2 separate regions of the Homo sapiens genome follow, and region 1 is linked to region 2. The links come from fine-mapping of genetic effects on gene expression. A gene starts in region 2. The other region holds a variant in brackets. All regions are shown on one strand. Distances are between the middles of the regions.

The links. PIP is the estimated chance that this variant, and not a neighbour inherited with it, causes the effect.
Region 1: its variant is fine-mapped to the expression of WDPCP in thyroid (GTEx, PIP 0.99).

The regions. Positions count from the first base shown.
Region 1 is chr2:63,459,363-63,472,325 of GRCh38, reverse strand. The region is part of intron 6 of WDPCP (WD repeat containing planar cell polarity effector); the gene reads left to right. Among named protein-coding and RNA genes, the nearest start is that of WDPCP, 120 kb to the left of the region's middle. The variant T/C (reference allele first, on the strand shown) is at 7,540.
Region 2 is chr2:63,580,938-63,593,322 of GRCh38, reverse strand. It overlaps WDPCP (WD repeat containing planar cell polarity effector), which reads left to right and starts at 4,846. Exons shown (of 18, transcript NM_015910.7): 1 at 4,846-5,126. The coding sequence starts at 5,052. It overlaps MDH1 (malate dehydrogenase 1), which reads right to left and starts at 4,360. Exons shown (of 9, transcript NM_005917.4): 1 at 4,277-4,360. The coding sequence starts at 4,279. RefSeq lists enhancers at 4,330-4,649, 5,161-5,681.

The sequences.
Region 1 (12,963 bases), 120 kb after region 2:
GAAGGCATGTCTGTAGTTTGAAAGGACCCAATGATTAAAAAAAGATTAATAGGCATATTTTGTGAATTTTAGAAAAGGCATTTTTGTTAATTTTAGGAAATCAAAGAGAGAAAAAAAGAAAATCCAAAAAACTTCTAGAGTTTAAAAAAAAAGAAAAGAAAAAACAGCAAGATACATACAAAAGATTGGGAATCAGGATTATATCAGACTTCTCAACAGTAACACGAGGAGTTAGAATACAATGAGGCCTTCAAAATTCGGAAAGAAAGTGATTTTTAGCCTATAATTCTGTATCTAAAATTCTAAATTGTCACATGTATACATATGTAACCTGCACATTGTGCACATGTACCCTAAAACTTAAAGTATAATAATAATTAAAAAAAAAATTCTAAATTGTCATTCAAGCCAGACACTTTCAGACTTAGTAGCTCTCAAAAAAATTTACCTGCCAAGAACTTTTCTCAGGAAGTTATTGAAAGATGTGATGCCCTAAAGCCATAGAGTAAACAAGATTCTTAGGAATCAAGAAACAGTGAATTTCATACAGGAAAGAGGTGAAACAAAGTTTTAGAATGACTGTGCCTTAGTCTCAGAGAGCAGCTAGTCCAAATAGGGGCAGGGAATGGGAGGTTCCAGGAAGGATGTTGAAGAGATGGAAAGCAACTGATAGATCATTTAATGTAAGATAATTAATAAGAGATAATAAGAGATATGGTAAATCTGCATATATGGTAATGGGAAGTCAATAAGTAATGACTAAATCAAGAAACAGCATCTATTGAAGACACTACTCCTTGCTTGTCCATCATCCATTTTTCCTTATGAACTGACTTTGATGTTCAGAGTAGCAATATAACCAATTAAAAATTCTTGGCTTTCCTATTCCCCTTCCAGCTGCAGTTGGCCATATGAAGCACGTCTTGCTTTGCTAAGCAGAGGTTACTGGTGGGACTTCCAAGAATTGGGTTATAACTTCTCCGCTTCTGCTCTTCGCCTTCTTTTAGAAGTCTGAATCTGAGATATGATCCAGAAAGGGTAGGGGCAGCTTGTGACCATTCATTCACTCAATGCATATTTATTTAGTACCAACAATATGCCAGATAGTATTCTATGTGCTGGGGATAGCAGTGAACAAAAGGGACAAAAGTGACCAATATCCCTGTTCTCATGTAGCTTATGTTCTAAAAGAGGACAGAGTCAAGAAAAGATGAATAAGGAAAATATGTAAGAGAGTGCAACTACTAGAGAAAAATAAAAGCAAGCAAGAAAGCATGATGGGGGATGGTAGGGCAGGCTGGGCCTCATATTTGGTGGCCAGGAAAGGCCTTAATGAAGTATCCCCAGATTGAGATTAAGATATGAAGGAAGTGAGGGAGTAAACCATGGAAGATACCTGCGGAAGAGCGTTCCAGGTAGAGGGAACAACAGGTACAAAGGCCCTGAGATGGGAGTATACCTGGCATGTTTGAAGAATAGCAGGGAGTTGATATGAGTGGGGTGAAATGAGCAAGAAGAGTAGTAGGAATTGAGGTCAGAAAGGAAATGTGACACTAGTTATATGTCTTCTAGGTCATCCAGAGGGCTTGGCTTTTACTCTAAATGAGAAGAGAAGCTCTTGAAGAGTTTTGAGTGGAGAAATATGTTTCAATTTACTTTTTAATTGGATCACTGTAGCTATTGATGGGAATAGATTGAAGACAGTGAAAAAGATGAGTTAGAAGGCTGTTGCCGTAGTCCAGGGTAAGGTGTGATGGTGGCTTTGACTGGATGATAGCAGTGGAGTGGTGAGAAATGGCCAGATTCTGGGTATATTTTGAGTGTTGAGGCATCAGAATTTGCCGATGGATCAAATGTGGGGTATAGAGGAAATTTCTGAGGAATTGGAAGAATGGAGTTGTCATTTACTGATGTGGGGAAGATTGAGAAGAGATATTTTTGAGGGACTTATCAGAAGTTCAATTTTGGACATGGTATGTTTGAAATGCCCATTAGATAGCCAATTAGAGAAGTCAAATAGATTGTTGATTATTGGAATTTGTAGTTGAGGGAAAGATTTGGGCCAGATGTATAAATTTGAGTGGCAGCAACACAGATGGCACTAAAAGCCAAAAGACTGGTGAAGATCACCAAAGGAGTGGGTGTAGACAGAGAAACAGAGGAGACTGAAGAGTGGAGCCCTGGAGTCCACTAACATTTTAAGATTAGAGAGACGGAGAAAAGGGAAGATGAAGAAAGGAGACAGAATGGAGTAGCTAGAGAAGTAGAGCACAATGAAGGGAGTGTGGTGTCCTGGAAACCAAGTTTCAAGAATAAAGTGGAGTGTTACTAGTATGCCAAGATACCTGTAACAAGATGGTGGCCATTGGCCACTGCATGGAGGAGCATGCAGGTCATTCATGATCTAGATAAAAGCAGTTTCAATGGAAGGTGATGGTAGAAGCCTGATTGGAAAGTATTTTTTAAAAAACTTTTATTTTAGGTTCAAGAGTACATGTGCAGGTTTGTTATATAGGTAAATATGTGTCATGGGGGTTTGTTATACAGATTATTTTGTCATCCTGGTACTAAGCTGAGTACCCAGTAGTGATTTCTTTTGCTCCTCTCCCACCTCCCACACTCCATCCTCAGGTAGGCCCCAGTGTCTATTGTTCCCTTCTTTTTGTTCATGTGTTCTCATCATTTAGCTCCCACTTACAAGTGAGAACATGTGGTATTTGATTTTATGTTCCTGAGTTAGTTTGCTAAGGATAATGGCCTCCAGCGCTATCCATGTTCCTGGAAAGAACATGGTCTTAGTCCTTTTTATGGCTGCATAGTATTCCATGGTATACATGTACCACATTTTCTTTATCCAGTCTACCACTGATGGGCATCTAGGTTGATTCCATGTCTTTGCTATTGTGAATAGTGCTGCAATGAATATATGCATGCATGTGTCTTTATGATAGAACTATTTATATTCCTTTGGGTATATCCCAGTAATGGGATTGCTAGGTCAAATGGTATTTCTGACTTTAGGACTTTGAGGAATCTCCACACTGCTTTCCCCCAAGTGGTTGAACTAATTTACACCCCCACCAACAGTGTATAAGCATTCCTTTTCTCTGCAACCTCACCAGCATCTGTTATGTTTTGACTTTTTAGTAATAGCCATTCTGACTGGTGTGGGATGATATCTCATTGTGGTTTTGATTTACATTTCTCTAATGCTCAGCGATATTGAGCTTTTTCTCATAGAGTTGTCGGCTGCATGTATGTCTTTTTTTTTTGAAAAGTGTCAGTTCATGTCCTTTGCCCACTTTTTAATGGGCTTTTTTTTTTCTTGTATTTAAGAGAAAATGGGAGGAGAGAAATTAGGGGCTTATAAAAAGGGTTAATGTTGTAAAGGAAAATGGAGAAATAGAGTAGGAGCTTGATGGAGAAATGGAGTCAAAAGAGGTTTTAATTTTTTCTTTCTTTTTTAGATGAGAGAAATAACAGATATTGGTATGCTAATGAGAATAATCCAATGGAAAGAGGGAAATCAATGCAGGGAAAGGGGAGCATTAATTGCTGGAGCTGTTGGCAAGAAAGAAGGAGAGAGACAGACAGAAAGAAAAACATACCTGCTAAGGGGGGAGGGAATAGAACGTAGGTGCCTGGTATCTGATGACATCATGGAGATGCTTTATAGTCCTGGACTGCTCAACTTCATATTTCTTTCTAAGTGAGAATAACAAGCCCTATTTGGTTAACTAGTGAGTTTTCAGGTTTGTGTTACATACACAAGAATGCATTTCTAACTAACATATCATGTTACTTAGAAGTGTGAGGTAGCAACAGAAGAAGCTGCTAAGAGAATTGAAAATGATTATCTTTGAGAGTGGGATGAGAGGCTGTGGGGTGGAGGTAAGACAGTAAACAGCTGTTTTAATTCCAAGTATTCTCTGACATTTTAACAATTTATACATGCATTCCTTTAATTGAAATCCTTTTCAATCATGCTCAGTGTCAGTTTGGGTCTTCTAAGAAGCAGATGGCAAGATAGTACTAGCCATGTGAGAGATTTGTGGGGGAGATGTGAAAGATGATGAAGAAGGGAGCAGGAGTAGGTGGGGAGAGCTTTTAAACTATGATGCTAGTCTGAACATGTGAAAGGAGAGAGAAGGAAGGAGGGTTGGATAGAAAGAGGTGCAGGCTGAAGCATGGTGCTGAGAAAGTTTCAGCCAGGCCAAATGTTATTCATTAGAGGAATCCCCTGTTGGACAGGATTGGGCTGGCCCTAGTACCCAGTGATGCTCAGTCGTTGGCTGGTAGCCACCCAGGGAAAGTGTGGCTTCTCTCCATCAACTTTACCGCCAGCCTCAGTTCCTCTTGAAGGAGTTCTGAGTGGCATACAGCCATAGCCATCACACTCACAAAGATTTACATTAAAGGATGTGTGTATGTTTGTGTATACACACAACATTGTACCTGAGGAATCTTAAATGTTCAGCTAGTGAGTTTAATATCATGCCCTTGATAATTAGTCTTCCTTGGGCAATTTTTTTTTTTTTTTTTTTTTTTTGGAGACTGAGTCTTGCTCTGTCGCCCAGGCTGGAGTGCAGTGGCACAATCTTCGCTCACTGCAACCTCTGCCTCCTAAGTTCTAGCAATTCTCCTGCCTTAGCCTACCGAGTAGCTGGGACTACAGGCGTGCACCACCACACCTGACTAATTTTTTATTTTTAGTAGAGATGGGGTTTCACCATATTGGCCAGGGTGGTCTTGAACTCCTGACCTCATGATCCACCTGCCTTGGCCTCCCAAAGTGCTGGGATTACAGGCCTGAGCCACCACGCCTGGCATTTTCTTTTGTTTGTTTGTTTTTTTGAGATGGGGTCTCCCTCTGTTGCCCAGGATGGAGTGCAATCTCGGCTCACTCCAACCTCCACCTCCTGGGTTCCAGTGATTCTCCTGCCTCAGCCTCCTGAGCAGCTGGGATTATAAGTGTGTGCCACCATGCCCGGCTTATTTGTGTATTTTTAGTAGAGATGGGGTTTCACCATGCTGGCCAGGCTGCTCTCAAACTCCTGACCTCAGGTGATCTGTCCACCTTGGCCTCCCAAAGTGCTGGGATTACAGGTGTGAGCCACCGCTGGACCTTGGACAAAATTTTTATTCCTTTCCAAGAAAAACAGGAAATTTACATTGTATCTTGACTACTTCAATCCAAAATTCAATGACCTATGATAATTGACTGATATATTATTTATGCTTAAGAATACAGTAGAATATTTACCCGATTTTGCAACATGGTTGTGACACAAAGAAACACTTGGTCTTCTTTTTAATAATATATCTTTGTATCATCAATCAACATTTTCTTCCTGTTCTCTTCATAAATGGTTATTTCTTTGCTTTTATTAATTGTTTTCATTTTAAAACATTTCTTTAAAGAAACTCTTAATTTCCTGGCTCCACTGTTGGCATTCATGACTAATAACGTTTTGGAAGCTTCCACGTATTTTGCTACAAAGGAAGCCAGTTCAGGACTATTAATTTTTCTCATATTTATTCAGTTATAGTTAATCATATGTGTCAAGCTAAATGAGTTCAAATCTGAATAATCTAACTCCTCTCTTGTTGTTTTTCACGTGTCTTTTACAAACACATACCAAATATTTATCTAGTTTTTAAAGGGAGGGTAAAGTTGTACTTCCATAGTTAGCTAATGAGAAGACTTTAATAAATTATATTTAAATACTAGTACTGATTTTTTAATCAGGTTTTATCAGTTTTGTAGAAACTTAAAAAGTGACTTATTTTAAATTTATAACTTTGTATTAAATGTACAAGTTAGAATGTGATATAAATGTATGTATAAACTAAGCATCTAAGGTTAAGTGTGAAAACACAGCAAATTTATATTCGTGATATTTGAGAATATTACGTTTTATATATATATATGTCAATGTAACTAATAGAGAAAACACATAAGGTACTTTTGCCAAATTGTAATTTATATGTCCCTTAGTTTTTTTAATAAAGTGTTTTTTTCAAAAATAAAAATATTAACTTAGCAGATAAACTACTTAACAAGTGACTGTGAAATGAAAAGCAGTTATAACTACTCATAAAATAGTATTGTATATAAAATGTTCACAGTGGCTCTCCACAGTGAAGAAGTACCTGTCCTTTGGTAGTCCTGTTGGTCTTAGTGGAATCCTAGGTTGAATTGTGAGGCCCCACTAAGCATATAAATTGGTCTATTTTTGTGTTCATCCTTCTCCCATAATAGAACAGTCCCTTGTTTTATCTGAGCCAAGTCTTCCACCTAGACCTAAAGTTCCCAAACTAGGCACAGAGGCACCCTGGGTACTACAGTGAATTCACAGGCATGCTGCAGGATATTTTTTAAAGTCTCAAGGAAAACACAGAGACTACTGTCGAAGATACAAACTATTAGCCCCAGATAGTTCAGAGTTTCAATGTTAGTTTATGCTACATTCTTTTTCAGGTTGTCATAGCTATTTGAAGCTGGGTTTTCAGGGCTTGCTGTGATAAAAAGCAGCTACTACACAATAATCAGCATAGAACAGGAATTAGGGTGAGGATGTCCAATTTGATTTCAAAATTTGACAAGTTTTGTGGTGCCTGTCTTCTGTTAGTACACACAACTTGTTAGTAAGTAGTTATTTAGGAATGAAATAAAAATCTTTTTCTTTCAATCTCTGTGTATTATATTTCCAAATGGCTATTAACTTATTAGGACATAAATACTTATTAAGTTGCTTTAATCTATTTAATAAATGGAACTATTGGTATTTCTTTTGGCCTAGGGGCACTGTAAAAAATTAGAGAGACACAAATGGTACTGTGAACTGAGAAAGAATAGGAACCTGTGGCCCTCACTTTGGATCCCAAAGTGGGATCCAAACCTTCTCAAACCTAATGTGACTGTCACTTCTCTGATGTGCAGCATAGTAGTGGAAAGCACAGACTGCTCCATTTTTTTTGGTGTCAAATTTTGGCTTTCCCAGCTGTGTGACTTTGGGGAAGTTACTTCATCTATTTGTGCCAGTTTTTATTTAGCTATCAAACAAAAATAAAAATACCTAAGTCATAGGTTTATTATGGGAACTCAGTAAGTTAACACATATGAAATACTTAGCACAGTGTCTGGCACAGGTACCTGCTTTTTAAATAAATAAATAAATAAATAAATAATAAATAAATTTAACCTGTCAGTTTGATCTTCCCAGTCAGCTTTTTTTTCAGTAAAAAACTTTAAATTAATTTTTTTATTGTGATAAAAACATATGGTACTGTGTTTTTAAAACACAATTGCCCATCTTTAAGTGTACAGTTCAGTGTGTTAAGTATATTCACATTATTGTGAAACAGATGTCCAGAACTTTTTCATTTTGCAAAACAGAAACTCTATACCCATTAAACAACAATGCCCCCTTTTCCCCCTCCCCTCAACCCCTGGTAACCAGCATTCTACTTTCTGTTTCTATGAATTTGACAACTTTAGATACCCCATCTAAGTGGAATCCTACAATATATATCTTT[T/C]TGTTACTGACTGGTTTCACTTACATAATGTCCTCAAGGTTCATCCGTGTCGTAGCATGTGACAAGATTTCCTTCTTTTTTTCAGGCTGAATAATGTTCCAGTGTATGGGTATCTACATTTTTTTTTCTCCATTCATCCATAAGTGGACATCTGGATTGCTTCCACCTCTTAGAGTTTGTGAATAGTGCATCTATGAAGATGAGTGTGCAAATATCTCTTCAAGACCCCGCTTTCAATTCTTTTGGATGTATACCCAGAATTGAGATCACTAGATCATACGCTAGTTCTATTTTTAATTTTTTGAGGAAACACCATACTGATTTTCATAGTGGTTGCACCATTTTACAATCTCACCAGGAGTGCATGAGGATTCTAATTTCTCCACATCTTTGCTAACACTAGATCTTTTCTGATTTGTTGTTGTTTGTTTTTGTGGTAGTAATCATTCTACTATCAAGCTATGAAGTAGTATTTCATTGTGATTTTGATTTGCAGTTATCTAATGATTAGTAATGTTGAGTATCTTTTCATATGCTTGTTGGGTATTTATATATCATCTTTGTAGAAATGTCTATTTAAGTCCTTTGCCCATTTTTAAGTTGGATTATCTGATTTTTTCGTTGTTGAATTGTAGGAGTTTTAAAATGTATTTTGAGGATTAACTCTTTCATATGTTTTGCAAATATTTTCTCCCATTCTGTAGGTTACCTTTTCATTTTGTTGATTGTGTCTTTTGATACCTAAAGGTTTTTAAGTTTGATGTCCCATTTGTTTGTTTTTGCTTTTGTAGTATGTGCTTTTGGTGTCATATGCAAGAAATCATGAAGTCCACCCCAATGTCATAAAGCTTTTCCTCTCTTTTCTTCTGGAAGTTTTATAGATTGGGTCCGTGATACTTTGCTTTTCCAGGGTTCTCTCTCTACATTTCTGTCTTTAATCCATTTTGAGTTAATTTTTGTATATTATGTAAGGTAAGGTTCAACTTCGTTCTTTTGCATATGAATATCCAGTTTTCTCAGCATCGTTTGTTGAAAAGATTGTTCTTTCTCCCCATCGAATAGTCTTGGCACCCTTGTGGAAGATCATTTGACCATTTATGTGAGGATTTATTCCTGGGATCTCTTTTCTGTTCCACTGGTTTATGTGTCTGTTTTTATGCCAGAACCACACTGTTTTTGATTAGTTTTGTAATATATTTTGAAATCAGGAAATGCGAATCCTCCAACTTTGTTCTTCTTTTTCAAAATGGTTTTGACTACTGGGGGGCCCTTGATATTCCCAGTCAGCTTTTAAACAGGCTCAACTCTTCTCCATTTAAACAAATGAACCCAACTCTTGGTCAGTACCACATTCTCCTCCAGGTACCATCATATCATATCCTTCTCCTTCCAAATCAGATTTCTCAACAAAATTGTCTGTATTTAGAGTCTCCATTTCCTTCTTGCTTACTCAGCATTCACCAACTTTAATCATGCTTTTTTCCTGATTATTACACAGCCAAATCTTCCACTAAGGTTGTAGAAAACCTCCATATCACTGAATCTAGTAGATGTAAAAAAAATCTTATCATCTTAAATACACAGTAGCAGTTAACATTACTGAGTACCCCTTGTTCTTGAAATTTTTTTTTTTTTTTGGTTCTTTCAGTGTTCTCTCTATTTCTTTTTCAGGTCCGTGTTCCTTTCCCCCGTCTTTGAATGTTGGAATTCCTCAAGGCCCAATTCTGAACCATCTGCTCTCCATTCTGAACTTCTAGATTATCAAATTTATAACCACAGCTTCCATGGTTCCTCCTAGAGCTCAAACCTCTCCCCTGTGCTCCAAGGTTATAAATCCAGCTGACTACTTAATGTCTCCCCTTAAGCAGCTCAAAGATAGCTCAGACAGTATCTTTAAAATGAAACGCAGAGACCCCTCTTTGGTCCTCTTCCACCATTCCCAATCTCAAGGAATGGCCCTGACTTCCATCCATTTATAGAAACCAGAAACCTGGAAGTCAGCTATTTATCTTCGAAATTATCCTCTTCTTTATCCAACTCCTTCTTTCCCCCCATATCCAACTAATCTCTGGTTCTTGTTGATTTTAGTTTCTAAATTTCTCTCACCTCTGCCAGAGGTTCTCCATCCCTTTCTGCATATTTTTAGCCAGAACCTCCTCACTTCTCTCTCTAGACTACTTCAAAACTTCCTAACCACTCTGTCTATTCCGTGTGTGCCCCTACCAGTCTGCTCTCCACATAGTAGTCAGAATGATTTTTTATTTAATTAATTATTTATTTATTTTTTATTATACATTAAGTTCTAGGGTACATGTGCACAACGTGCAGGTTTGTTGCATATGTATTACATGTGCCATGTTGGTGTGCTGCGCCCATTAGCTCATCATTTACATTAGGTATATCTCCTAATGCTATCCCTCCCCTCTCCTCGACCCCATGACAGGCCCCGGTGTGTGATGTTCCCCACCCTGTGTCCAAGCATTCTCATTGTTCAGTTCCCACCTATGAGTGAGAATATGCAGTGTTTGGTTTTCTGTCCTTGTGATAGCTTGCTGAGAATGACGGTTTCCAGCTTCATCCATGTCCCTACAAAGGACATGAACTCATCCTTTTTTATGGCTGCATAGTACTCCATGATGTATATGTGCCACATTTTCTTAATCCAGCCTATCATTGATGGACATTTGGGTTGGTTCCAAGTCTTTGCTATTGTGAATAGTGCCGCAGTAAACATATGTGTGCATGTGTCTTTATAGCAGCATGATTTATAATCCTTTGGATATACACCCAGTAATGGGATGGCTGGATCAAATGGTATTTCTAGTTCTAGATCCTTGAGGAATTGCCACACTGTCTTCCACAATGGTTGAACTTTTTAAAAAACAAATTTGTTACTCCTCTGCTTAAAACCCTTCTACAACTTTGGAGGACAGGTGGGAAACTGGAAACTGATTAAAAGGGATAGAGAAACGTGGGTAAGGGGATACAGGGATGAGAAGAAGACTTTTAATGGTACACCTTGGTATAATCTGCTGTTGTGTTCTTTTGGAGCTACATGAATGTATTATATATTCCAACATGAATCAATAATTTGAATTTTAAAAATTATAACATCAACAAAACTGGTCCCAATCTACCTGCATTTTAAATTTCATCCCTTACTGCACTCTTTTTTAATCTCATTGGCCAAGCTACACCAGGTGTATTAGGCCGTTCTTGCATTGCTATAAAGAAATACTTGAGACTGGATAGTTTATAAAGAAAAGGGGTTTAATTGGCTCGTGGTTATGCAGGCTGTACAAGAAGCATGTTGCTGGCATCTGCTTGGCTTCTGGTGAAGCCTCAGGGAGCTTTCAATCATGGTGGAAGGCAAAGGGGGAAGCCAGCATCTCACATGGCAGGAGCTAGAGCAAGAGAGAGTAGGGATGGGAGGTGCTACACATTTAAACAACTAAATTTAGTGAACACTGTCTCACTATTGCCAGGATAACACCAAACCATGAGGAATCTGCCTCTGTGACCCAAATACCTCCCCGCAGGCCCCACCTCCAACACTGGGGATTACATTTCAACATGAGATTTGGGTGGGGACAAATATCCAAACTATATCACCAGGCTTCTGTCAATCCCTTATATTCTACATACTATCTCTTGCTACCTGGCCTTTGCATGCACCATTCCTAGCTCTGCCTAAAATGCCCTTTGCTTCCCCTTACATGGAAGTAACACATTCTCAACCTTAGATCCCAGACTATCAGTTGTCTCTTCCTCAAGGAAGCCTTCCCAGAGAAGCTTTATCCTTTATTTTGTGGTTTTAGAACATCATGTATTTCCTTTTTTTCTGCTTATAAGAGACTTAGTGGCTGGGCGCAGTGGCTCACACCTGTAATCCCAGCACTTTGGGAGGCTGAGGTGGGTGAATCACGAGGTCAGGAGATGAAGACCATCCTGGCTAACATGGTGAAACCCCGCCTCTACTAAAAATACAAAAAATTAGCTGGGTGTGGTGGCAGGCACCTGTAGTCCCAGCAACTCAGGAGGCTGAGGCAGGAGAATGGTGTGAACCTGGGAGGCGGAGCTTGCAGTGAGCCGAGATCGAGCAAGACTCCGTTTCAAAAAAAAAAGAGAGACTTACTTTATTTTCATGTATTTTTTGTTTTGTTTTTTTCTCTTTTATTGATACATAATTTACATATTTGTGGGGTACATGTGAGTGTTTATATGCAAAGAATGTGTAATGATCAAGTGTGAGTAATTGGGATGTCTGTTAACTTGAGTGGGTAGTATTTTTACATGTTGGTATTACTTCAAGTTCTCTCTTCTAATTATTTTGAAATATACATAATATTGTTGCTAAGTATAGTCATCCTATTCTGCTATCAAACATTATAACTTATTTCTTCTATCTAACTATATGTTTGGACTCATAACCGAACTCTCTCCCCCACCCCCGATTCCCAGTCTTTGGTATCTGTGCCTTCTATTCTCTATGTCCATGAGGTCAAGCTTTTAGCTCCCATATATGAGTAAGAACATGTAGTACCTGTCTTTCTGTGCCTGGCTTATTTCATTTAACATACTGACCTCCAGTTCCATCCATGTTGCTACAAAATGCATGATTTCATTATTTTTTATGGCTGAATAATATTCCATTGGTTATATACACCACATTTTCTTTATTCATCGATCTGTTGATGGGCATTTAGATTGATTCCATATCTTTGCTGTTATGAATAGTGCTGTGATAAACATGTGAGTGCAGATATCCTTTTGATATAAATATATTTCTTTTTCTTTGGATAGATACCAAGTAGTAGGATTTCTGGATTGTATGGTAGATCTCCTTTTGTTTTGTTTTTCTTCTTTTTTTGAGACAGAATCTCACTCTGTTGCTCAGGCTGGAGTACAGTGGCGCAATCTCACCTCACTGCAACCTCCCCCTCCCAAGTTCAAGCCATTCTCTTGCCTCAGCCTCCTGAGTAGCTGGGACTACAGGCACATGCCACCACTTCTGGCTAATTTTTTGTATTTTTATTAGGCACAGGGTTTCACCATGTTGGCCAAGCTGTTCTCAAACTCCTGAGCTCCGGTGATCTGCCTGCCTCAGCCTCCCAAAGTGCTGGGATTACAGGCGTGAGCCACCATGCCAGGCCTCCTTTTGGTTTTTGATAAATCTCCATACTATTTTCCATAGTGGTTGTACTAATTTACATTCCAACCAACAGTATATAAGAGTTCCCTTTTCTTTCTTGCCAGCATGTTATTTTTTGTCTTTTAAATAATAGCCATTCTAACTGGGGTGAGATGAAATCACATTGTGGTGTTAGTCATATACCTCTTGTCTATATGTATGTCTTTTGAGAAATGTCTATTCATGTACTTTGCTCATTTTTTTAAATGAGTTTTTTTTTTAACTGTTGAGAT
Region 2 (12,385 bases):
TGGGAGTTTGAGACCAGCCTGACCAATATGGAGAAACCCCGTCTCTACTAAAAATACAGAATTAGCTGGGTGTGGTGGCAGGCATCTCCCAGCTATTTGGAAGGCTGAGGCAGGTGAATCACTTGAACCCGGGAGGCAGAGGTTGAGTGAGTGGAGATCGTGCCATTGTATTCCAGCCTGGGCAACAAGAGCGAAACTCCTTCTCAAAAAAAAAACAAAAAACAACAAACAAAAAAAACAAAAAGTGTCAACTGGTGTAGAGAAATGAATTTGATCATAGCCAACTACATACTACACAATTTTTTTTTTCTAATTTATTACTATTTATAGAAAAATCTTTAATGGCCTACACGTTTTTCATTCTGTCATTTTCCCTTCTTTCCTTGAAGTAGAGTAGGTGAGGAAAAGGGAATACAGGAAGAAATTATTACTCCCTTTCCCTTTAGAATACGAGATCCTTAAGGACAGGAACTTTGTCTATTTTATTTACTGCTGTATCTCAATTGCCTAGAACAACACCTGTCCTGTAGTTGGAACTCTGGTATTTGCTTGAAGGAATAGCTGGGTCCTGTAAAACTATCAAAAAGATGGAAATGTATAAGAACTGTTTGAAAACATATGTAACGTGCTTTAAAAAATTTTTTAAGATATTTTATTTATTTAAGCTATTTCAGGCTGAGTGCAGTGGCTCACACCTACAATCCCAGCGCATTGCGCGGGGGGACAAGGCGGGTGGATCACTTGAGCCCAGGAGTTCGAGACCAGCCTGGGCTACATAGTGAAACCCTGTCTCTTAAAAAAACAATTTAGCTGGGTGTGGTGGCAGATGCTGTAGTTCCAGCCACTCAGGAGGCTGAGGTAGGAGAATCACTTGAGCCTTGGAAGTTAAGGCTACAGTGAGCCATTACTGTGTGAGTGCACTTCAGCCTTGGTGACAGAGTGAGATCCTGTCTCAAACAAAAACTTTTTCATATATACTATGAAAACAAAAGGTATTTTATTCATATATATTATGTATTGAGAAAACTGGAAACTTAGTGACCACAATAGTTCCAACTATAGCTAACAAAATTGTCATTAGTACTAATGATATTACCTTATAAATCCACTGATGAACTGTTTTCTCATTTAATTCATTCATTAAACAAAACATCATTAAGTTCCTATCATGTACTTGGTACTATTTTAGGCCAGGGAATCCATTGGTGAATCACGTGAAGGAAACAAAAAGGATACACCAATTTTCTAAAACAGGGGGCTAGAGAAGCAGTAGAGAGTAGTAATTAAAGAGATGGACTCTGGAGCCAGACTTTCTGTGTTCAAGTCCTGGCTCCACAACTCATTAACTGCATGCTCTAGGACAAGTTACTTAACCTTTCTGTATTATTTCCCCATAGTAAAATGGAGATAATAATAGCAATTACCTAACAAACAGAGTAGTTTTAAGGATTAAAAGAGTTAACACACAAAGCACTAAGAACAGTACGTAGTGAGTATTTATAAATATCATCACAGAATTTTCCTCTAAAGACTTTAATAGCCTGTGGTTTTCTATTTACATTTCTGTTGCTCTGTATTAGGCCATGAAGCGCTCTTGAGAACAGTCTGTCTTTGATATGGATTTGCATTTCCACAAAAAGTATTTGTTGAATGAAGGAAGGTTAGGGTATAAAGTATGAACAGATACTACTTCAATGAACAGCAAACTAGGATAAGAAAAGGGGGGCTGAAGAGAGTGAAGATCACTATCTATTAAGTTTAACTTCCCATAAGGTCACCTATATGGTTAGAATAATGCAGTCAATTTTAGTAGCTACTTAAAAACATGTTCACAGTATCACAGTCCTTAGTGAAGGGGTTGTGGCCACCTAATGAACAGTTAATTCCACCTCAGCAGTTTTCTTCTGTGTCTTTGGGGAAATTACTTTCCCAGGTAGGTAATTCCATCTTATTAATGGTAGTATGAGGCTTAGTGTTTGAATGTCTGAAGATGAAACAGAGAAAGAAAAGTCCATGTATGGTTCTTTCTGCTCTTCTGCAACATTGCAGTTGAAAAGCAGGAGGGTGGGAGAGTCCTGCTGACTTTCACAATGTTATAGTGTGAACATAGGTTACTATTCTTTGCTCAGATATCTGGGCAGTGTGCCAAGGTCCAAAAAAGGAACGTCTTTGCTCTTAGCAGGGCACCAATGACTTTCCTGCAGATGCAGGCTCTGTGCTAACTTCTCAGCTATAAAGATTGAATTTAAGTGTCTGTTATTCCACAGACAGAGCCACATATTTCTTTTTCACTTTCAAATTTATATATATTTCTAAATTACATGTATTTCTATAACACAAAAAACTAAGCAGTACCATTTAGATTCCTTCATACAGTTTATTTTGCTGTCACTCCCTACAGACAACAAGCAAAGAATCCTCCGCTTTGAATGAGCTTACAGAAGAAGGCTCTTTTCTAACTCTGTCCATTCACACACCCTCCTGAGGGGGCAGGGAAATTGAGTCATGTGTGAGTTTGCTGTCAGTTCCAGCAAACTGCCAGACAAATTCTTCCTCATGTTCTGTCTCTGTGTTATCTGGCACCCCAGTGACCTTCCAACGGTGGGGCCTTGCTAGGGAAACTAGCTAAGAATCTGGGGCCCAAAATCTCTGTGACCTTGGGAAAATTATCTGACCTCACCAGACTACATTATAAGAGTAGATAATATAATCTCCAAATTCCCTTTTAATTCTACAATTCCAGTATTTTGAATGGCAAGGAATAAAGCTATCAAGTAATCTACATGCTGATAACATATTTGAGTTTGTATATGCAGTATGAACTGGTAACTTCATCCGGAATCTCAGCTAGTAAAAATAAGTTTTCAGGGAGTTGAGTACACTGTCTCTCCCCCGCTGCGAGACCTCACTGCGGTGGTCCCTATAAAAATAAAAATTCAGAAAGACTTGGTAAGTGTAAGACACAATATAGAAAAATGGCAAGAGTGTGAGACTCTTGGAGCAAATCACATTCTCTTTGGGTCTCGATAAACTCCATTTTAAGATCTGAAGTGGGGAGATTCGTCAAGATGACCTTTAAAAGATCCCATTCAGTTCTAAAAGCAAAAAGTCCAAGGTTATCAGATAATAAGTACCTCTGCTTTCTAGCTAAGGTTATTAGGACAGAAACTACCGAAACCATAATTTAAATGACTAATTATGTGACAAAACATTTAGGAAACCTAGGTTTAACACCTACTGGAAATTAGTAGCTGTCTCCACTGGCCCCGTTAGACAGGCAGAGAGAGTAATGCCCTTGCCTTGAAAACGTGTCTTTTCAGGTTCTGGGAAATTTCCAATTCATTCAAACATTTCTCCACATTCTCCAGCCGTTTTAGTATTTTGCAGATAAAGTAGGAAAAACAGTCGCAACTATAAATACAAGCCATTGTATTGATAGTATGAAGCGATTTCTCTGAGTTTGATGACAAATGTCACCTTCAAGCAGTACGCAGATTATTCCTACGCCAGAGTTCCTTCACCAACTCTCCCCCTCCCCCTCTCTTTCAGCAGAGACAAGCGATGGAGATGCAGGTTACCCAGGTCTTCCATGACAAAATGGTTACTCTGTTACATTTAAGAGAGGTGCTTCTGGAATTCACAATATACAGTTCAATAAAGAATATTTGCAGTAGTTATTTAGTTAGTGATGCTGTCACTTCAATATATCCTGGCATTACAAAAAAGGTCAATGAACGGGTTCCAAATAACATTTTGAGAAATTAGATATGGCGGAAACACGTCTGCTGCAAACGCAGATCGTAATCTGGAGCACCTGGTAAATACTACCTTTCCAGCTTTTTGCTTTCAAGGTCCCTGTGACAAAAGCCGTTATAAACACTGTGGGCAAATGAGGAGAAAAAGGGGTTAGGACCCAACCTTTCCCTCCCATCGCAAACCTTATCGTCCTTATCAAACACCGTAACGTCCTTTGGAAAATAGCTGCAGCGTCGCATTTTGTCCTCCCGTCATGCAGCAGGATTAAGATCGCTCCTCTCCCAGGACAACTACTTCTCCAGAGTCCTCCTAAGAGCGCCCCATACCCCGCAAGGTGGAAATCAATCCCTTCCCATTACTGGGTCACTGCGGCAATCCCCAGAAGATGAGTCCGAGCTTGCCAAAGGGCGCGAAGGACAGTGCCTTGCACAGCTGCCTCCCAAAAGTCCCTAAAGTGCAAGAAACCCCACTCAAGGGCGCGAGGGCCAGAGGTGGGCAGGAACCCGGGGCCCACACTCACCATGATTGAAAACTGCGGGGACAATTTCAACAACTGCAAAATGAGCCTCAGAGAGTCAGGTCACCTCTACCGCGGAACTGACTCGGAGAGGGCGAGCGGTGTTAGCGAGAAAAGGCTCCGCTCCCGACGCGGCGCTCTCTGGGAACTGTAGTTTACGCTGCCCTGGTTGTGGCGCAATCTCCAAAGCATTTCCTTCAAGTGTTGAACTACACTTCCCGATACCAGAGGTTTTTTTCAAGCTCTTCTCACTGCGCTCTGCGCCGATTGCAAAGTAGTCCCTGAGGATGAGCCCCTGTGATTGGAGGACGACAACAAACGGATGGTTTGGGCTCAGGAGGAAAGGACCTGCCTGATGGAGCCCGGCAATTGGCGGGAGAGATAGCGTGTGTAACTCTAGGGAGGGGAGAATCACCCCTTAGCGACATCACCCCCACGCGCGTGACTGAGACTGCATCCTCCCATGAGGGTAAACGTGGGAGGTAAAGAGACCTTCCGCTGCGTAAAGCTGGATCGACCCGGAAACAAAATCTTTTAAAAAACGATTGACACTCTGGAGGGGCGGGGGAATTGATAAGTTGGGACGACCGGACAGCTTCTCAGGTTGCTAAGCGACGAGGCGGGAGCGCACGCACACCCTGGCTGCTTTGTAGCACCTGAGGAAACTGTGGCGGCGGCGGCGGCGTCCTGGAGACCCAAGAGACCAAGCGAGCGTGTCGCTCCCTCTCGGGTCCGAGGACCTAGCCTAGGAACCTTCTGCCCGGGGTAGTGTCTGGTGATGAGGCGAGAGTTTTGCTGGGACGCCTACTCCAAAGCGGCCGGGAGTCGCGCTTCTTCCCCACTCCCGAGACAGGTGAGCCCTGGCCCGAGGGCAAGGGGTTTTCTTTTAACCTTAGGATCCGGAATGCGGTTGGTGCGCCGTCCCGCTTTGCTTTTATCCGCTGTGCGGATGCCTGCAAGCTCGCCGGTCCCTTTTCTGAGCGGAGTATGAGGGCTGTGGGAATGCAGCTATTTTGGAGGGGGTGGTGCCCTGGAGTAGGTGCACCCCCGACCCCAAATGGAGCTCTTCCAGAGTTATATCAAAAATATTTATTGAGCATTTACTTTGTAGGAGGTGAGCCTCTCCCTTCCAGGAGGTCACAGTATACGGTTCTAATTTGCTCTAAGCCCTCCGTGAATGTTGAGTTTTGTCCATTCCCTTTTGGAAGAAACAGGATGCGCCTTAAACCATCTTGAGTCTTAAAGTTATGCCAAACAGGCATTTCTAAGGAAAGACTGGCGACTGAAGGGGAGACACTGGTTGTTTAGTCAGTCAGTCTCAGCTGGTAAAACAACTTAAGAGGTTCTCTTTAAAATTAATGCTGCCAAGAGAATTGCTGTGCTTTTTGAAAGCTTGTTTCTTGTGGATGTTAAAAGGAAGATATGATGCTCGGGAGTAGCATACACAGCATATACGTAATGAAAATGAATAAAACATCTCTATTAGATAACATTGTTAGAACTTCCGTTTTTTCTCTGTCACTGATAAATGAATGCCAAGTAATATCTTTCAATTTTTCTCTATTTCAGTTTGGAGGATTTGCTATTTTTGGAAAGAAATGTAATGCTTTACTTTTAGCATTTATTAATATCATACCTGAATGACTCTCCTTGTATCTCTTTATTCATTTGGCTCTCAGACAACATACTTTCCTGGTTTTCCTCTTTTGTTACTGGTTCTCAGTTCTGCGGAGTTTCTAAATTTTTTTTAGTTGTGATCTCTTAACATTGGGGTGCCTGTATTCTCTGTCTATACTAAATCCCTCAGTGAGCTAATTCATAAGTTGCATCACTTCAAATGCTACTTTTAATGTCAAAAACTCTCAAATTTATGTGTCTAGTCCTGAATTAGTAGGTGTGCATTATTCTCAAACCTAGGTTCTCTGAGTTTTACTTTTTACTCTGAGCAGTTACGAAAAATTTCTTCCATTATCCTCCTAAATGAATTCTTCTACTAGCTGCTAACAGAAAGATTTTTCCATGTTGTTGTCCTTAAAAATATCATGATTTTACCTAATGTAAATGACGAGTTAATGGGTGCAGTACACCAACATGGCATGTATACGTACATATGTAACAAACTTGCACGTTGTGCACATGTACCCTAGAACTTAAAGTATAACAAAACAATCTCATGATTTTTGTCCTCGATTTACAGTGAATTTTACAAGGGAGACTTTTTATAACCAGAATTCTCACTGCAGTCCTATAGCAGGACAGGACATTCCCATACTCCAAGAAGGCCACAAACATGTAAGCCCCCGTATTCCCATCCAGTCCAGATATACAGAATTGAAGTCACCTGTGTGGTAGTTCACGGGCCTTGTTCTGTTTATTGCTAGTTGCCCTTGTAAATCAGGTTAAGGAGCATATTAGCACTGATTGTAAGTTACTTTTCTCAGGTAATATAATACACTGCAAGAGAAGATGTTTGGTAAGGTGGGTATATCAGCACATTTCCAATTATACTAATAAGATTGTCTGTGTTCTCTTCCTTTTGAACCGTCTTTGGTAATAGCTAATGTCAAGTAGCACAATATGTCATTGCACTTTCACTGTGAGTTTGAATCTCCAGGTGGTTTGTGAATGTGTTGCAGACATTCATTTTTTGTTAAGGCAACAAACAGAGCATTAAACTGTTATGCTATATTTGGAGTTATGCTTAACATTTTTTTTGCCCAGCCTCGCGTTATTTAGTAAGGTAATATTTAATTCAAATTGTAGAAAATGTTTGAAATACCATTCTAACAACATCCAGCAAAGATATTAAAGGATCATTAAGTTTCAAATCTCTGAAATAGAATGTTGGCTCTTGATACCCAAGGCACTTTGGAACTCACAAGATCTTATGCTTTTTTATAGTATACAATTATTTAACCACAGCTAGGCGTGGTGGCTCACACTTGTAATCTCAGCACTTTGAGAGGCTAAGGCCGGAGGACTGCTTGAGTCGAAGAGTTTGAGACCAGCCTGGGCAATATACTGAGACCTTGTCTCTACAAAAAATTTTTAAAAAATTAGCTGAGTGTGGTGTTGTGCACCTGTAGTCCCAGCTCCTCAAGAGGCTGAGGTGGGAGGGTTGCTTGAGCCCAGTAAGCAGAAGTTGCACTGGCATCACTGCACCCCAGCCTGGGCGACAAAGGGAGATCCTGTCTCAAAAAAAAAAAAAAAAAAAGAAAATTATTTAACCTCATATTAATTTTATCTCTAGCATATATAAAATTGTTATAGATCTAGTTAAAACTCATTCATCTTAATGTTTTCTTTAATGAAGTTCTATTACACTTTTAAGCTATTTTATAACAATTTTGTTATAATCTGGTTCCTTTTTGTTGAAAGTAACAATGTAATATTTAGAGAGTACTATAATGTAAAGATGCCTTTACATTGCTGTCTGTCTAAGTAGCTACATTTTTAGAAATATGTACTTTACCATAGGATCATGTATTTAGTAAACAGCCATGTTAGATAATGGAGTGTGATTGAAAATAGGATTATTTATAAAGCAAGGTTAAGACTTGTGAAATAAATCAGAGACCAAATTATTACAAATATTTTTTAAAGGAAAGATTGCAGAGCTAAATAGTTGACCTTAGCTGAAAAAAAAAACTTTGGCTTTTTACCCTTTTTAAAATTTAAGTGTAATGCTAGGTATCTTGGAAATTATTTGTTGGCTTAAGTGACATGCAGGACATTTTTGAAAGTATTCTCAAGTAATTTCTTAAAATGAATATGTAGTATTTTAAAAATAATTATTACATTCACTTTAGTGAATCTTAAACGTAGTAATTCCAAATTTAGTTATGGCAAAAATAAAAGTGCTTGTAATTTAATTTAAAACTGTAGTCTCAATGAGAACCACTTTATTACTATGTCTTACAATTTTATACATACACAATTTGTACACATTTTAAACTATAACATTTGACTGGAATTTTCAGGAATGGTGAAATACAGGATATTTTAATAGGATAAAAGTTTTAATCATGATCATTACGTAGTCAAGTTGCTTTGAGTGGTCAAGTGGTAGAATTGAGTGGAATAATTTGCTAGGACCTCCTCTTTTAACTTTAGTTAAACAAGATAAAACATTATTCATCAGGATTCTGTTTGATAATTACATGTTTCCAGAAGTATGAGCTACCTAACCTTGAGTTTTTTTCAAGTGAAAGGAGCAGAATTTATTGGTCTTAACTTTACTACCTAGCTGTGTGACCTTGAACAAGTTTCCTGGTCTCTATAAATCTTCATTTATTAATACAATGAGGCTAATAACACAGAGTGATCATTATATCTGGAAACGTAATGTAGCAATTCCATTCCTTTACATACCCATTTAAATCAAGAGATGTACAAGATGTTCATAAGCACTGTTTCTAAGAGCACAGCTCTAGAAATTACCCATATGGCCATCAATAGGAAAATGTAAAAATATATTGAAAATGAATAGAACATAGCTACACACCAACATGGATTCATTGAAATCCATTGGATTGATTGAAAATGAATTCATTTTCATTGGATTCATTGAAAATGAATATAGCTACACACCAACATGGATGAGCATCAAAAATACAATGTTAATTGAAAAAAGCAAACCATATAATAATATATACATTATGATTTAATTTTTATAAAAATTAAAAATTTGCAACAAATACTGTTGTTCACGATTTCAAACCCATCTGGTAAAACCATAAATAAGAGCAGAGGAATGATTAATCAGAATTCAGGATAGTGGTTGCTTGGGGAGGAGAGTAGGAGACGGGGTACTGGGGTCTTCAAAATATTAGTGATCTACTTCTTTTTAAGCTGTGTTAGTATGTGGGTATTTATTCATTCATTTATTTATTTTGAGGCCATCTCACTCTGTTTCCCAGGCTGGAGTGCAGTGGTATGATCATATCACTGTAGCCGCGATTTCCTGGGCTCAAGTGATCCTCCTGCCTTGGCCACCCAAAGCGCTGGTATTATAGGCATGAACCACTGCACATAGCCTGGTTTTATTTTTTGTTTTAGTTTAAGACATACATATATCTCTGGCCACTCTTTTTTTTTCTTATTCTTCTTTGAGATGTGGTCTCGCTAGGTTGCTGAGGCTGGTCTAGAACGCCTGGGCTTGAATGATCCTCCTGCCTCAGGCTCCCAGGTAGCTGGGACTACAGGCACTGACCACTCATATGTATCCTATTTTATATGAAACATGGTGACTTAGAACTTTATCTTTTATTATTGAACAACAAATTTGAGAGAGAATACAGTCACTCATGACACTAGTACCCTAAAATAACTATTTACATTTTTCAAAATTTCTTTCTTTTTTTTTTTTTTGAAACGGAGTCTTGCTCTGTCGCCAGGCTGGAGTGCAGTGGCGCAATCTTGGCTCACTGCAAGCTCCACTTCCTGGGTTCAAGCAATTCTTCTGCCTCAGCCTCCTGAGTAGCTGGGACTACAGGCACGTGCCACCACACCCAGCTAATTTTTGTATTTTTATTGGAGATGGGTTTTCACCATGTTGGTCAGATGATCTCGATCTCTTGACTTCCTGATCCGCCCGCCTGGCCTCCCAAAGTGCTTGGATTACAGGCATGAGCCACCGTGCTCTGCCAGGTTTTCAAAATTTCAAGGTTAAATTTAAATGACGTCTTGCTATTTGTCTTCAATTTGTCCCATTTGTTCTCTGTTCTCTCTTCTTTTCTTCCTTCTTTTTGATGAATTGAAATTTTTTACAATTCCATTTTATCTCCTTTATTGGCTTATTGACAGTAACTTTATTTTAGTGACTGTTGTAGGGTTTATAGCATACATCCTTTATCATAGTGTATTTTCAAGTGATATTATACCATTTCATGTATAAAAACCTGCCAATAATTTACTTCCATTTCTCCTTTCCTGACCACTTTACTTTTACATGTTATGAGCCCCATACAACATCATCGTTATTTTTGCTTAGTCAATTATTTTTAAAAGAGATTTAGTGAGAAAATATCTTAAATATTCATCAATATGGTTACTATTTTCAGTCTTTTAATTTCTTTTTATAGATCTGTATTTCTAATATAGTATGATTTTTCTTCTGTCTAATGTAGTTCCTTTTTAAAAATGTTTCTTGTGGTTAGGATTGGCTACTGAAAAATTCTCTCAGCTTTTGTATGTGTGGAAAAATGTTTGTTTGAAAGATATTTTCACCGGATATAGAGTTCTAGATTGATAGTTTTTTCTTTCAGTACTTTGAAGATCTTGATCCACTGTTTTTTTTCATTTGCCTTGTTTCTGATTAAAAATCTACTATCATCTTTATCTTTCTGTATTTGTACTTAAGTGTCTGTTTTTCTCTGGCTGCTTTTAACATTTTTCTCTTTATTACTGGTTTTGAGTAATTTCATTATGATGTGCCTTGCAAGTGTAGTCTTTTTTATGTTTCTTGTGCTTGGGGTTCATGGAGCTTCTTGGATCCATAGGTTTATAGTTTTCAATGAATTTGGGGAAATTTTGACCTTGTTTCTTGAAATACTTTTTTCTGTGTGCTCTTCGATTCTTGCGCTGTTTTGGGGATGACAGTTATATGTATTTTGAGCTGATTGAAGTTGTCTCATGGCTCATTGATGCTCTGTTTATTTTTAAAATTATCTTTTCTTTCTAGGTTTCATTTTGTAAAGTTTCTGTTGCTAGGTTTTCAAGGACACCAGTTTTTTATTTTGCAATGTCTAATATGCTATTCATTCTATCCAGTATATTTTTTATTTCACATATTGTTTTTATGTGTAGAAGTTGGATTTGGGTCTTTTAAAAAATATCTTTCATGTCTACTACATTTGTTTAACATGTGGAATACAGTTATAATCATTGTTTTAATATTCTAGTCTCCAGGTTATAACATGTCTGCCAGTCCTGGGTTGGTTTTAGTTAATTTTTATTTCCATTATGGGCCATATTTTTATGCTTCTTTGGAAGTCTGGTAATTTTTTTTATTAAATGTCAGATTGCGAATATTACATTTCTTTTTTTTTTTTTTTAAGATAGGGTTTTGCTCTGTTGCCCAGGCTAGAGCTAGTGGCCAGTGCAGCCTCAACCTCCTAGGCTCAAGCAATCCTCCATCCTCAGCTCTCAAATAGCTGGGACTACAGGTGTGCACCACCATACCTGGCTAATTTCTTGTAGTTTTTTGCAGATACAGGGTTTTGCCATGTTTCCAGGGCTGGTCTCAAACTCTAGGACTCAAACGATCCACCCGTCTCAGCCTCCCAAAGTGCTGGGATTATAGGCCTGAGCCACCATGCCCAGCCTGAATGATTTTTATCTTTCTATAAATAACTTTGAGCTTTATTCTGTGATGCAATTAAATTATTTGAAATTAGTTTAATTCTTTCAAAACTTGCTTTTAAGATTTATTAAATATTAGTCAGGATCTGAGTATTGCTCAGCTACTAGGGGTAATAATTTCCTACTCCTGAGCCAAGACTTTTCTGTGTACTCTACCCAATGACTGTGAATCACAAAGTTTTTCTGTCGGGCTGGTGAGAACAGGCACTATTCCCAGCCCGATATGAGTGCCAAGCACTGTTATCTGTAATCATTTCTAGTTGCTCTTTCTCCAGCCTCATGGTTTGATCATATGCATGTGCTGTGAGTACTCAGCTGAATTCTCAAGCGGAACCCTCTGAAATTCTCTGGAGTTCTCTCTGTATGATTCTCCCTCTCCAGGGAACTAACTACCTTGTCTTCTCCAGTTTTTCAGTTCTGTCTGCTCAACTCAAGTTTGCCGGGCTACTCCTGGTTTCCCCTTCCTTGCACTGTACATTCTCTCACACAAAGACATATGGAAATATGTCTTATGGAACTAAGCTCTAAGACAGCTTTGTATGCCTTCTACGTTGGTTTTTAGTTCCTACTTTTTGGTGAAGAGAAGTGCTCTCTCTTACAAGCTCAGCTATTTTTTTTAGTCTTTTATTTTGAAATAATTTCAAATTTACTGAAGAATTGTAAGAATAGTAAAAAGAACTTCTAAGGCCCCCTCAGTTAGATTTACCTTTTAAACATGTTGTCACATTTGCTTTATCACATGTTCCCACC